2 linked regions of the Homo sapiens genome follow. The protein of the gene in region 1 purifies or fractionates together with the protein of each later gene. This does not show direct contact. Each region holds a gene or a part of one and is shown on either strand. Other genes may lie near its edges.

Evidence for each region. Proteins that work in one complex are often made in the same cells at the same time.
Region 2: the proteins of SLC7A11 (region 1) and PPTC7 purify together in Homo sapiens (affinity purification with mass spectrometry; 2 studies listed by BioGRID and IntAct, with this or other methods). This does not show direct contact.

What each region holds. Positions count from the first base shown.
Region 1 is NC_000004.12:138,163,044-138,169,966, forward strand, and holds the end of SLC7A11 (cystine/glutamate transporter), read right to left. Parts: 3' UTR 1,054-6,923; downstream 1-1,053. UniProt on the Homo sapiens protein: Heterodimer with SLC3A2, that functions as an antiporter by mediating the exchange of extracellular anionic L-cystine and intracellular L-glutamate across the cellular plasma membrane.
Region 2 is NC_000012.12:110,545,223-110,552,892, forward strand, and holds part of PPTC7 (protein phosphatase PTC7 homolog), read right to left. Parts: intron 6,747-7,670; coding exon 6,567-6,746; intron 857-6,566; coding exon 658-856; intron 1-657. UniProt on the Homo sapiens protein: Protein phosphatase that plays an essential role in mitochondrial metabolism and biogenesis. Positively regulates biosynthesis of the ubiquinone, coenzyme Q. Dephosphorylates the ubiquinone biosynthesis protein COQ7 which is likely to lead to its activation.

The DNA.
Region 1 (6,923 bases):
AGCTTGCTTTTGTTTGGCAGGTAGCTTTTACAGAAAATCTGTTTCCATAGAAGCTAATGGATTGCTTAAATTTAGGAGTAACAAAACCTGCTTCTATGCTAATCATAAAAAAGCTAACCCTGCAACCTAATGAATGTCATTTATTCATGCATGCACTGAAATTATACATTTAATAAATATTAATTGAGCACCTACTATGCTTCAGTTGGCGAAAGACAAAATCAGCAAATTCAGGCAGAAAAGTGAGTCCAGTAAATCAATTACAGCAGTGTTCAATGAGTTCTACAAAAAAGATGTGCTCCAGATGATGAATGCGTTCAGGTGTCAGGTCTTAAAGCAACTTGGGGAAGGCTTCTGGAAGAGGTTACTTTTGAACTTAAATGTTGGGTAGAAGTTAACTGTGTGTGGAATAAGGAGATGGGAGTTGGGGAGGAAAATATAATTAATTCCTGTAAGAGTATTCAGTGTGTAAAAAGAAATAATGGCATCATATTTTGTTGCTATTGAACCACTGAGAACACATTTAATATGGCTGCCGAGAATGTGGAAAGCTGGAGAAAGAAAGGTGACAGGTGATGGAAAGCCCTATGTGTTACATGGAGGAGTTTGAATTTTATCCATCCACAAAATAAAATATATATATATATATATATATAAATGTGAAACCATTGAAAATTTTGACCTCATTTGAGTTTCAGGAAGAACATTCTGGGGAAACAGTTGAGAGTGTAAAGAGATAAAAGACAAAATTCTTGTTAAAGGCCTGAAATGAAAAGATTTTGAACTTGTACAGGTGGAAATAGAAGAGGAGCTAGATATTTCAGACCAGAGGACAGATGGATGTAGACCATGAGAAAGAAAAGAAGAGTGTTTCCAGGAGACTGGGTCTGCCAACACTTCCAGTTTTTAGTACAGGAAACTGGTGTAAAGTGGGATGCTCCAACAAATTTGGGGAATCAGTAATAGATAAATTCAATCAATCATTAAAACTAAGGCCTTCAATTTAAATGAATATACACTGCTTAAAAAGAAAGCAAAACATGACGACATTTATTATGTAAACTATCAAATGTTTATTTAAATTTCCATTTAAAATATTTTCAAGTAAAATATGTACAAAAATGGTTATAAAATGGTTGAAGCAACTAGAAGCGTGACAGGTATAATACATATAAATACAACCAAAATTCAATTCAATGCAAAGTTGAATGACATCATATTGCACCAAAATTTATTCCATACAAAAGCACATGCATCAAGAGTTTCCATAAGATGAAAACAAACACACTTACTTCATAGCATCTTACCACTTACTTACACAAATAGCCCATAAACACCATCTGGCATTGTGATTGCAGTACCAGAACTCTCCCCAGAGGGAACTCATTTAGCTATAGAAGAATCCATTTTATTTCACATATCACATGCTTGTGCAGGCATCAGTGCTAGGAACCCTAAGAAACAACGCAATCCACAGATGAAAGTCTCTCTGCACCATTTATATCTTCATAGATAAATATCTTAGTTCTAATATGATTGGAATGTGGATGCAGAAATAAAATGCAGTTTTGCTCTTTAAGAATTTTATCAATGTAAGACATTGTATTAAATTTGTATAAAATACACACAATCCCCTCTACTAAGTTTCATGATCACAGTGCCAGAGTGAAGAAACTCTGCTTGAGTTGAGGACCAGTTAGTTAGGATATTGAGGATCACTCTTTTTCAGCTGGATCTCTCTGTTCTTGTGTTTTCAATCACTAGACCAAACCCACGATGCCCCTGAAATTCTGGGAATGGTACAAGGTCATAACTAATGCATTCCAGATCCAAGTTAGGGATTTAGCTGGTCTATAAATTACAGTTTAAGCACAGATCAAAGAGATGGCTGCCAGCATATCCTTCAAGGGTAACCTGAGTTCCAAGACTTTCCCACTGGGCTAAATGGACTCCACTTGTTGCAAATTATAAATGCTTGTCACAGAATATGAAAAATATTTAAATACATTCATAGATAGTACCTAATAATATGTTAACATAAACATAACAACACACATATTATTTTTCTACCCCTTGGCAACTGAAAATGAAGTTACCATTCCTAGGCCAAATTTTTAGACAAAGCTTTCTAAAACCATCTTTATAAAGTAAATTCAGATATGCTTACAATAAAAAGACATAAAAGATTCATCCTGAGATGAATTCTGAGTCAATAACTAAAAACCATTTCTACCAGTGCATCACTACCATGTAATCCATTCTACGCAAGCTCTACAAATATTGAGTCAAATCCTGTCTGTCAGAAAATGAAGACCCAATAAGTTTGCCGAAGTATTCAGTACAAGAGGCCATTTGTCTTGCCTTTTTCTGACATGTGCATACTATAAAATCACAGGTAGCCAACATTTAGTATCAGTAAAAAACAACTACGTTTGTTCACCTGTTTGGCATAGGGAGAAAACAATGTATCTCATAGCATTAAATGATACAGCCTTAACACATATGATGCTCATATTTGCAAAGTTCCCAAATGTTGAGAAGTTCTAGTGAAAAGTCATACTATTGTGCAAAGATGAAAATTTGGAGCCAATGTCTGTATTCAAAATAACCAAAATATATTTTAAAGCAAAATATATCCTGATACTACTATAGATTCTAGGAATTGTCCTAAAAGAGTAAAGTGTTGTTTCCTTTCTGAACATGAATAACATCAAAGGAAGAACCCAGTTCTTAAGACTTAAGTAGGAAATTTATAGAAATTTGATTTATACCAGTAGTAATAACATTCATAAGGAAAAACTATTAGGTAACAATTTTCTCCAAGAAGAGGATCAGATTACTTAAAATTGTTGGAGAATTCTGGTTGTTTGTGCAATAATCATAGTGATTTACATTGCTTTTCTTCTTTCAGAGCAATAAGAAAGTTATTTGGGGTAGTACTTGAAATAATTCATATACACAGTCATTTAACATAGATCGTTTCTAGTCGAGTATGAGCATACATTCATGGGAACAATCTGTTTCATTCTTCAAAGTATGTTTGTACTTTGGAATGAAGGAGAAATTCTAGGGAAAAATTAATTCAGAAATCTTTTGAAATAAGACAGTTCAAACCTAGGACCAGGTAACCACATTGCATTGCCTCCCAGTGTGATATGACTGTGCTTCCAAGTATGCATCTAATAAAGTTAGTTAGTAGGAAAATTTGATGTCTAAATTTTATAATACACATTTAAGTCAGACCACTCACAACCCAACAAATTATACAGCTTTAACATGCAAAGGCCTAATAGGTTTTCCCACAAGATGCTGTAATAATACCCTGTCACACAAGGTACTCAAAATACAGTCACCACTGCAAAAGAGATACCTGTGCATTACTCTTTTTTTCCCCTCTGGCTTTCAGCACGGCCTTCTGAGGCTTTAACAAGAGGTAATAAGGACTTAGCAAGCAGTTCTCCTAACCAATACATTAATTCACTTGAAAGTCATACTTTTAAAAAAAATCAGTAGTGTATATGTTGAGGAAAAAAAGCATGTTCACTCTGGAACAAAGTTGGCCCTCTATGGCTCTCAGATGCCTAATGCTCTACAGTTTTGTGAGAGAATTGTTAACTGTAAAGCTGTAAAGGCGGTTATTGGTACTATAAATGTACACTTGATTCAAGTACGCTGAAACACACACATGTAACAGCTATTAGGACACTGTAACCGTCCTCTGTGTATTTTAAGGCCAATAGTAACAGAGAGGAGGGAAAAAAATAACTACCAAGAAAATAAAACTAATGGGTAGATTCACACTAAGAAAATCTAGGTAATTATATAAATTCATTGTTATGAGGTTGTAGAAAGGACAGTTATCTCACGACATATGGAAAATTGGTGAATTTCCTGTGAGACTATGATTTATGCTTTTGTGAATGTATACCTGATCTAAAATTAGACAAAACATTTATTTTTAGACACCAACTAATTGGAAAATATAAGGAAAGAAATAATTATCTCCCAAAATTGACTATTAAAAAATAATTTTTAAGTACAGTACTAATAAACTAAGGATGACCTAGAGAGCATACCTTTAGCTATTATTTAAAAATCTTTTTTTTTTTTTTTTTTTTTTTTTGAGATGAAGTCTCGCGCTCTTGTCCCCTAGGCTGGAGTGCAATGATGCGATCTTGGCTAACTGCAGCTTCTGCCCCTTGGGTTCAAGTGATTCTCCTGCCTCAGCCTCCCGAGTAGCTGGGATTACAGGCGCCTGCCACCACGCCCGGCTAATTTTTATATTTTTAGTTGAGACAGGGTTTCACCATGTTGGCCAGGCTGATCTCGAACTCCTGACCTCAGGTGATTCGCCCGCCTCAGCCTCCCAAAGTGCTGGGATTACAGGCATGAGCCACCGTGCCGGACCTATTTAAAAATCTTTTTGAAGTACAGTACTAATAAACTAAGGACTACCTAGAGATCACACTTTTAGATATTATCTATTTTAACATAGATTAAAAATACTGTTTATATGAAAATTAAGCTTAAATACACGTATAGGTAATAATTATTTTGCCCATATACAAGTAATGTAAACAGAGGCTATCAAGGTGACCCATTATCTACTCTAATTTATATCCACTATGAGCTTCTTCCCAGTTGTTATACAATGCCATATTTTAATTCCTGACTGAATGGTTAGGAAAGCAAAATGTAACTCTGTAAACTTGATCAGCACTAATGTACAACATATTATGGAGGGTAAAGTGAAGCAAGAATATATTCAAGTAAAATAAAATGTCTTTCATGGGCATTCAAATCCCACATCTCTCTATATTTCTTTCCCAACTAAGAGCTATAATTAAAATCCCATTTATTATTTTTCTATAGTTCAGAATCAACGTATAAAATATGATGAAAGTGAAACTATCTCCCTATATATCACATCATATATATTGTGAGAAAGTCACTTGTTATATATGGATATTTCAATTAACTCATAAATTTTTAAAAACATATCCTCCATACTTATTTCTAACAGAAAAAAATAACAGGAATTATTTTACTTTACTCACATGGACAATGCAGATTTTGTGGGGGTAGAAGTGTACACAACTTTGCTGGTCTTCTTCAACAAAATTAGTACAGAATTCCTAATACAAAGTTAGGTTCAGGACCTCGAATGGAACATGTCTAAGTGAGAGGCACTGAAGCTTAGGTTTCATTAGCTTCCTGCGAGATCCACCTATGCACAGCAAACAACTAATTTTTAATATTTCTCTGACTATATTGCATAACATTAAAATATTGTTACCTTCAGTCCATACTATCTTTCATTTCCTGATTCTCTGGCCTTCGGTTTTTTATCTTTTCATACCTTATACCTCAATTACAAAAGATCAACTTTAACAAAGGTCAGAGTTGCTCCCTTTCTTAGCAGTATATTCATCTGCAAATCAAGATAAAATAATGATTTTCCTGTAGACTGATTACAGTTCATGAGGAATTCTGTTATGTAATTATACTCTTGTTAACCCTCTATTGATATGTCAAATTGTAATTGGGGAAACAATTTTACCAGACACATAAGACGAACAGGAAATCTGTTTCAACGTGAATATCTTAGTGTTGGAGAAACCGTCATGCATTGCTAACGTAACCTAATAAGCTGTCCAAATTTTGTGTCCACAGGGCTGAGGAGCTACAGTCTAAATGCATACGCATGTTGGGAACCGAAGTCAGCCATCTTCCCTAGGACAAATCTTTACTCTTCTAAAGAAGGACAAGAATAAGGTCTACTTTCAGCTAACCATTTATAAGGTTCAGTTTTCATTGGATCAAAGGAATATAATCTAATACTTTTTAAATGGGGTCAAAACAGTATTATAAGGAAAATATTTACTGCAAATATTTATAATTGTGTAAGGAGAATCATTCTTTTTAAAATCAAGTTGTGTTTTAGCTTTAGAATCTTTTAAAATCACAAGTATTTGAGAATCCATCCCCACAAAAATTAAAAAATACTATATTAGTTATTTTAAACAGTATTCATTACTTTTACTGTTTATGTTATAATAAACTTATGTATATAAACATTTGAATATGCATGGTACAAAGTACAAGTACAGAACATGTAGTAAGTAGTATGTGCATGTATGTGTGTGTGTGCATATCGTATAAAAATATGAGAAAAATTTTACTTATATAAAAACATATATATAAATAAGTGTTCAGGAGAGTTTTTGAGAATCTGCTTTACATACTGCAATTTTGAGTGAAAATTATGGATATTAATTTCCTGATTAAAGGAACTGTGTCTTCTCATGATGAGTCCTAAAAATAAGCCAAAATACTACTTAATCTCCATCACTTTTTTTCTTAATTACTGGCTGACTTTTTTTCTGCGTGAAATGGCATTACAATGGCAGGGAAATTTAATAATGCAAAAATCACTTTTGAAAATGAGAAAGAATAATTCTAGTTACCTTTTAAATTGATACTTTTAAAGAGAAATTCAAATCAAAAATAAATAAATTAAAGTCTGAGACCAATTTGCCACTGTGAATATAAGCACATTAACCCCAGGAAGAGCCAAGAACTACACAAACCTCTCTATGAGAATTTACCAGTCTTCTTTCATTTGGCAAGAAAAAGCTCAGGAAAATTTGCTTGTTTAAATTCTATGAGCCTAGTCTATGGGGAAAAAAAAAATAGGAATATGAAAGAAATTCTTACCTCCAGCAACATATCATAGGGAGAGATGTGGACAAATGAACAATATTTACTGGAAATAGGAATTATAAATCAAATTTTGAAAACCCTATGCTAAGGAAGGAAGGAGTTATTATAAATTCACTCAGAGACCCAAACGTTAGGTTCAGCTAAAGAAATGTCAGTCTTGGATATATATTAAATGTTTTCAAGAGCAAAATTGAAATTAC
Region 2 (7,670 bases), on another chromosome or scaffold:
GCTGGGACTACAGGCGCCCGCCATCACGCCCAGCTAATTTTTGCATTTTTAGTAGAGATGGGGTTTCACCATGTTGGCCAAGCTGGTCTTGAACTCCTGGCCTCAAGTGATCCACCCGCCTCAGCCTCCCAAAGTCCTGGGATTACAGGCGTGAGTCACCGTGCCCAGTCACTTAAGACCATTTTGACTCCATTTCCTGCAAGTTCTATTTGATGCATGTAGTAAGAGGTCTAGAGAATCAGGAAGTTACTCCAATAAATAACGCAGATGTCTGTTTGTGCTCTTCCCTAACAATGTATGCAAAATCTTGTACAAGCAATGGCATGCATGAACAATGACTCATTTCTCCAGCACAATTTAATAAAGTACTGTATGTACCATGTGGTGTTGATATGAAAAATTGATATTCTGTAAGCCTGAAATAGTATTTTCATGGTCTTGTCAAATTATTGGGTATTTATCAGAATTCCACTTAGCTAGATTATCTAGTTCCAGAAAAGTATCTTTCAAAGTTAAACTAAAAGGTCCTCTTGATGAGAACATTCTCAGTGTATTCTTTTCATGGAAATGCCTACCTCACTGCACTCAAGGGGGACAGGAGGGGACTATGAATGAGCCACGTCCTGCTCACACTTAATGGCTGAGAGGGGAGATTACCTGTCGCTCAAGACGACTCCCTCGGCTTCAGGGGGAGCGATTGAGAGCTGGAATGGAGTGTTGAAGTAATGCTGCTGCTCATCTGATCGGTGCACGACTTCACCACCCCTGACAACCAGGAAGCCTGAATCGCCCAGGTTTGCTGTGTGTAAGCGGTGGCTGGTTCTGTCCAGCACCACAATGCAGGCGGTGCTGCTACCTAGAAACAAAAATCATCTCCATTTATTTTTTCTTCCTAGGCTGCCTTTGCACACACATTTTAACACATGACCCCACAGAGCAACACACCATAATTTCAATCTCCTTTGCCTAAACAGGACCTTTCTTAGTTATGCTCCACATCCTCTACGAATATCAATAAAATCCTGATCAGGGTTAACACGGTGGGGAAAGAAAAAGGATTTGTATTATACATAGTAATTGGGCCACAGATGATCTGAATTCTTCCATTTGCATTGACAGAAAGCAATAAAAATGACTGGTATTTAATCACACTATTTCATTTCAACAGTGCTGTCATCTATGCCAAATGCTCAAAAACATGTTGTTGAGATATTAAGTTTTAATACTTCAATGCCAGAATGAAAATGTTACATTTTCCCGACATTTCTTATTAGTCATTGGCCACAAAATTCACTCACATTTAAGACAGGGCACATAACTACAATTTTAAACCAGATTTCCATCTGTTGAGGTCAGGAAGAACTTTTATTGGAGACTAATGACTCACTCACTATGAGGTAACAAGACCAAATTTCTGCAGGCAGCTTGTGGAATCAACCTGTTCATTCGACAGAGACTCTGGGCAAAGAACTCTGCATAGCTTTGCTGTGCACGGGCCACAGAATCTTCCCTAGACTGAAAGGCTAATGGCACAACTAGCAGAGACCACTCTCAAGTACTAACAGTTAAACCTACCTACCGCCACCAGAAAAATGGCAACATAGAAAAACAGGCAGTTCACAAAGAAATAAGTGTAGATGATCTGTAAATATATGAAAAAATGACCACCTCACTAGTAACGCTTTTCACCTATTAGTTTAACACGAGTCAAAAGAAGATAATGCATATTGTTGGCAAAGTGTAGGGAACATGCCCACTGCACAGAACATTCATTCTGCGGGAGTGAAAAGTAAAAGTAAACAACTTTCCTGGAGCGCAAGATAGCCCGGAAAAATGTACCTCCTTTCATCTAGCAATTCCATCTCTGAGAATTTACGCTAAGAAAATAATTAGAAGGGCAAACAAGACTTAAGTACAAAAATATTACTTAAGATGAGAAAGAACTGGAAACAATCTAAACATCTAAAATAAGGGACTGGTTAAATAAATTACAGTACATCCATACAGTGCAAAGATACACCATCACGTAATACTCAGGAGTACAGGCTCTGGAGTCAGCCTGCTTCCTGCCTGTGTCTGAATCCCAGCTCTGCCACTTCCCAGCTCTGTGATGGGGCAAACTACTTAACCTCTCTGTGCCCCAGTTTCCTCATCCACAAAAACAGGGATAACAGTAAGTACCTCATAGAATTTTTCTAAGAATTAAAATTAGTTAAGTCATGTCAAACCCTTATAACAGATAGTGTTGGCTATTTTATAGCCATTAAGATTATGTAAAATATATTTGAAAGGAAAGATAACTATAAAATAAGTAGATTACAAACTCATATGAAAGTTTCCTTAACAACAACAAAAAAAGATGATGTCAAAACCTAAAGAACTGTACACCAAAAAGAGTAAAGTTTACTAGAAGTCAATTTTTTTAAAAAAGCAATAGGCAAAGTCTAAATTATTAAAATGATGGTTAAAAGGAAAACAACACAAATGGGCCACGGAACCAGCCATATTAAATCCCAGTGTGCCATCATTTTCCAGCTATGTGACCATGGCAAGTCACTTATTCTCTCCAGACTTGTTTCTTCCTAACAAAATGGAGAATAGTTCAGGCGTGGTGGGTCATGCCTGTAATCCCAGCACTTTGAGAGGCTGAGGCGGGTGGATCACTTGAGGCCAGGAGTTCGAGACTAAGCCTGGCCAACATGGTGAAATCCCCTCTCTACTAAAAACACAAAAAATTAGCTGGACGTGGTGGTGCACACCTGTAATCCCAGCTACTTCGGAGGCTGGGGCACAAGAATTGTTTGAACCCGGGGGGCAGAGGTTTCAGTGAGCTGAGATTGCACCACTGCACTCTAGCATGGGCAACAGTGCAAGACTCTGTCTCAAAAAAAAAAAAAAGGTGGAGGGGAATAAAATTAAGTACCTATGTATTTACCTCATGGGGCTGTTGTGGGCACATAGTAGACTCAATTCAAGTTACCATTATTCTATGCACACATACACACAGAAAAAAAATCTGAAAGCATAATCACTCAAATATTAATAGTTGTTTTAGTGGGATCATGGGTAATTTTTATTATTAATTTTGTCCTAACAAAGTAATTTAAAAACACTTAAAAATATACATGTCTTTCTCATGCTAATGCCCAGAAATTCCATTTCCTTGTTATCTACAGTATATGCGTTAGTACTAACTCATACTATGCTAGCCATTAAGTGTCAACGAAAAGCAAAGCACGGGTACTGTAACTCACTGGTAGTGCTGTCAGATAACCCGCTCCATAGCTTACAGTAGGACAAAGATTGCCCATTACCTTTCCTTCCTAACTCAGTGCACATCAACTCTAACCTTTTATCATTAATAGATCACCACCCAAAACATCTTCTGAAAACTCATGGGATTATATTCTGAGAAAGAAAAACAACCCGAGTAGCACATCCTTGAAAATTCTGCTGCAAGAAGGACTCATGTGACTCCTTATATACTCACTGACGAAGCCAGGCTATCCTTTGCTACCCTGCGACAGTAACTCGCTGAGTTGGAATCAAAACAGTCCTGGTGAGTGACTGAGCTTCAGTATCCAAAGCAGCACCAACAAGTATAAGCCCAGCCTTACAGAACCATCTGGGCTTGGAGTGTACCCTCCTCTTTTGCCTCCTCAAATTCCTGATGTGTGCACGTGGCTCAGGCCCCAGCAGCCTAATATTGGGAGAAGAGCTAATCATTCTCACGTGTTTGGAGAGGCACAAGCAGGCAAAGATGAGTAAGAAAAGCGGTGCTGAGAACCACAGTGTAGGATGTTTAGACAAATGACCCATATAGACAGGAACCCAGGCGAGTCCCTCATGCTCAAATGGAAATATTTTTATCACCCAGCTCCTTATTTTGTAAACTACTACTAAGCCTTTTGTATGGCAGAAAAAGGGATAACTTTATTAGGACCAACCCCTCAGGTTCTTAAGATACTCTGGCTGCTTAGGACCTTATCAATCCATTTAAAGGTTTCTGAGGAAATCATATATGCCAACAATTAGTCTGTAATGCCCTTAGACCCAAACGCAGCTAGAAAGTCAAAGAAATAAGTGGTTACAGCTACCAGCTTGCCTTTTATATTGGAATTGCTTTGTAGGCTTTTTAGCAGTTGCTGGATTAAAAAAAAAAAATTACCTAACTAACTTATCTGGTAAAGTTGTCATGATTTACAATTATATCTAGCTGAAGTTCAGTAAAACTCAGCAGCTTGTCTTTGTCAAAATATGCTTGAGTTTCATTACAAACAGCCTAGAGATGTGTAGATTTTGTGAAAAAAAGGTGTGTCAAACATGGTGATGAAAGATTATTTCAATGTGCCTTTTAGGAGAAAAAAGTAATCACAATATTCAATGTAAGAAAATATTATTTTCTCTAATATTAAATTTAAATGTATTTTATTAATATCTCCCAGTTACATGAGGGTGAACAGAAAGGGAAAGTAGGAATAGGAAAAAGAAAAAGGCACAGCAAAAACCAAAGCTTCTAAAGTGTAAAATCAGGATGGTTACGTGTTTTGTAACCAGTTATCTCAAGTCAAAGTAAATGATCGGGGGTCAGAGGGTCAGCAGAGCCACTCTTGAGAACATGCAGGAGGCAGTCCCCTGGAATCTGTGTCTAGGGGCTCTCTCTCCATTTAACATGTGAAGCAAGGAGATCACAGGTTAAGTGGCTTGCCCAAAGTCACACAGCAAGTTGACAGAGAGGTGCTAGAAATAGCATCTAGAATGTTTCACTATGCCAGACAAGCTCCAGATTGCATGTCCAAAACAGGGAATTAAGACAAAGCAGTATATATTGAAACTGCAAGACAAGATCCCTTTTCAGTTTGAAGGAAAACAAGTTAGTTAATCACAGCACAAAGACAGAAGACAGCAGACTGATAAAAAGAACTCCTTACAAAGGGCTTAAACTGAAAGCAAATTCTATAACAACTGTGGTGATCTCCATTAACGCTAAACAGGGGCTGATTTTTTTTTTTTTTTTTTTTTTTTGGAGATGGAGTCTTGCTCTGTCGCCCACGCTGGAGTGCAGTGGCGCGATTTTGGCTCACTGCAAGCTCCGCCTCCCAGGTTCACACCATTCTCTTGACTCAGCCTCCTAAGTAGCTGGGACCACAGGTGCCCACCACCACACCCGGCTAATTTTTTGTATTTTTAGTAGAGACAGGGTTTCACTGTGTTAGCCACGATGGTCTCAATCTCCTGACCTCATGATCCGCCCACCTCGGCCTCCCAAAGTGTTGGGATTACAGGCGTGAGCTGCCGCCCCTGGCCGAACAGGGGCTGATTTTAAATGTCAATGGTGACTGGGAAGGAGGCCTTCTAGTAACTAGAAAGATGCTGGCTATGAGCAGAAACGTAATAATACCCTCTCTGAGAGACTGCTTAGAAGGCTGGGTAAGTTCCCAGGAAATCATGTAACAAACAAACGTAGAGGCCTGGCCAAAGGATGCTCCATTAGCATACCACATAAACAAACCCTAAATACTTGGTTTTAAGTTTTCTAATACAAGATTATCGGGGATCTAATTTGTGCCAAGTTATTTCACCGACTAATCACCTGTTAGCAGTGTGGGGTGACCAAACACAACTTGAACTCATCACAGGTAATGAACTGAATTTTGCAGGCCAGACCATTTCTTTTCTTTCCTCTTGCTCTTCTTTCTTCTTTTACCAAATTTTAGAATCCCTCAACAATACAGTTTTAACTTTTTATGTTTCTAAACTTGAAATATATGGAATCAGACTGTCAGGTGGAATTCTGCAATGTTCTCTCTTCCCTTCACAACATGTTCCTGAGTAGAACATGCAGCTTTAAGTCGTTTCTTTTCACAATGCATTTTTCTACAACAGATAGACTTTTAGGTTGTCCCCAGTTCTCTGCTATTGGCAACATTTTGAGAACATTCTCATACCTATCTTTTGGTTCACGTATTGTGCAAGAGTTTCTCTAGTCTAGGGTAAACACCTAGAAGTGCAACTGCTGTGGCATACTATATGTTCATATTTAATACCAAATTGTTTTCCGAAGTGGCTGTACCTATCCACATTCCCTCCAAGCAGTACTACGTATTCTGGTTAGCCTATAGTTTCTCTTTTATTTTTTGGAGATGGAGTTTCACTCTTGTGGCCCAGGCTGGGGTGCAATGGCGCCATCTCGGCACACCGCAACATCCACCTCCCGGGGTTCAAGTGATTCTCCTGCCTCAGCCTCCCAAGTAGCTGGGATTACAGGCATGCGCCACCATGCCTGGCTAATTTTTGTATTTTTAGTAGAGATGGGGTTTCTCTATGTTGGTCAGGCTGGTCTCGAATTCCCGACCTCAGGTGATCTGCCCACCTCAGCCTCCCAAAGTGCTGGGATTACAGGCGTGAGCCACTGCGCCCAGCGGTTAGCCTATAGTTTCTCTATCACACTCTGCTTAGTAGGAAGAGCCTCAGAAAAAAGCTGGTCCGATAAATGATTTTCTTGGTTTTGTTTTTAACTATCTAGGGGGCTTCTTTAGAGGAAAACACATAAGATACCCACTTACCGAGCAAAGGGACTTTATTTTGCAGCAACTCACAGTAGCTTGTGGTGAGAATTCCAATGGGATTACTAGGTACGAACCGTCCTTCTTTTACTAAACGTTCACACGTCCGCATTAAAGTCCCTGAGAATTGAGATGGATCAACTCCATAGTCTCTCCAGCCTCCTACACCATCTGCAACCCCTGAAGAAAAAACAAAAATTACAGTAAAAGAACAATCTTACCAACTTCTCAGGAATTCTTACCTCTGTTTTCTCCTAACAGTTAATTTCACTACATGCTACTACATACATTCACTCCAAAATTCAGAATAAAAAGCACTCACGTTTAATGTATTCTACACTAACACTCCTAAGCCACATTCACTACTTAGAATTTGGCCTTTCATATATTGATGAATAAACTTTTGAGCTACCACAGGGTGGCATTGCCTACCAGCCAAGAGTTCAATTTCAGCAGGATTAGCATCTGTGTATAGACATATTTGTGTCATTAATACTTTGTCTTTTATAAGAATGAAAATTGATTTTTAAGCAAAGTGCTGATGCTAGTGACGATACAATTCAGTCAGAGCTGGAGATCACAAAGAACATCAAAAGCGGCAACCTTTTAACTCCAAACATTGGTCAATCGCTGGGAAATAAAGAACAAAACTGAGAACATATCCCATCCCCTCTCCTTCTACCCTGTAGAGGGCGGTACTGTACAATACAACAGCCATTCCTTACATGGTTACTGAGCACCCGAAATGAGGGAAGCCCAACTTGAGACATGCTCTAAGTATAAAACATACAGTGGGCCGGGCGCGGTGGCTCACGCCTGTAATCCCAGCACTCTGGGAGGCCGAGGCGGGCGGATCACGAGGTCAGGAGATCGAGACTGTCCTGGCTAACTCAGTGAAACCCCGTCTCTACTAAAAATACAAAAAATTAGCCAGGCGTGGTGGCAGGCGCCTGTAGTCCCAGCTACTTGGGAGGCTGAGGGAGGAGATTGGTGTGAACCCGCGAGGCAGAGCTTGCAGTGAGCCAAGATCGTGCCACTTCACTCCAGCCTGGGCAATGGGGCGAGACTCCGTCTCAAAAAAACAAACAAACAAACAAAACCACA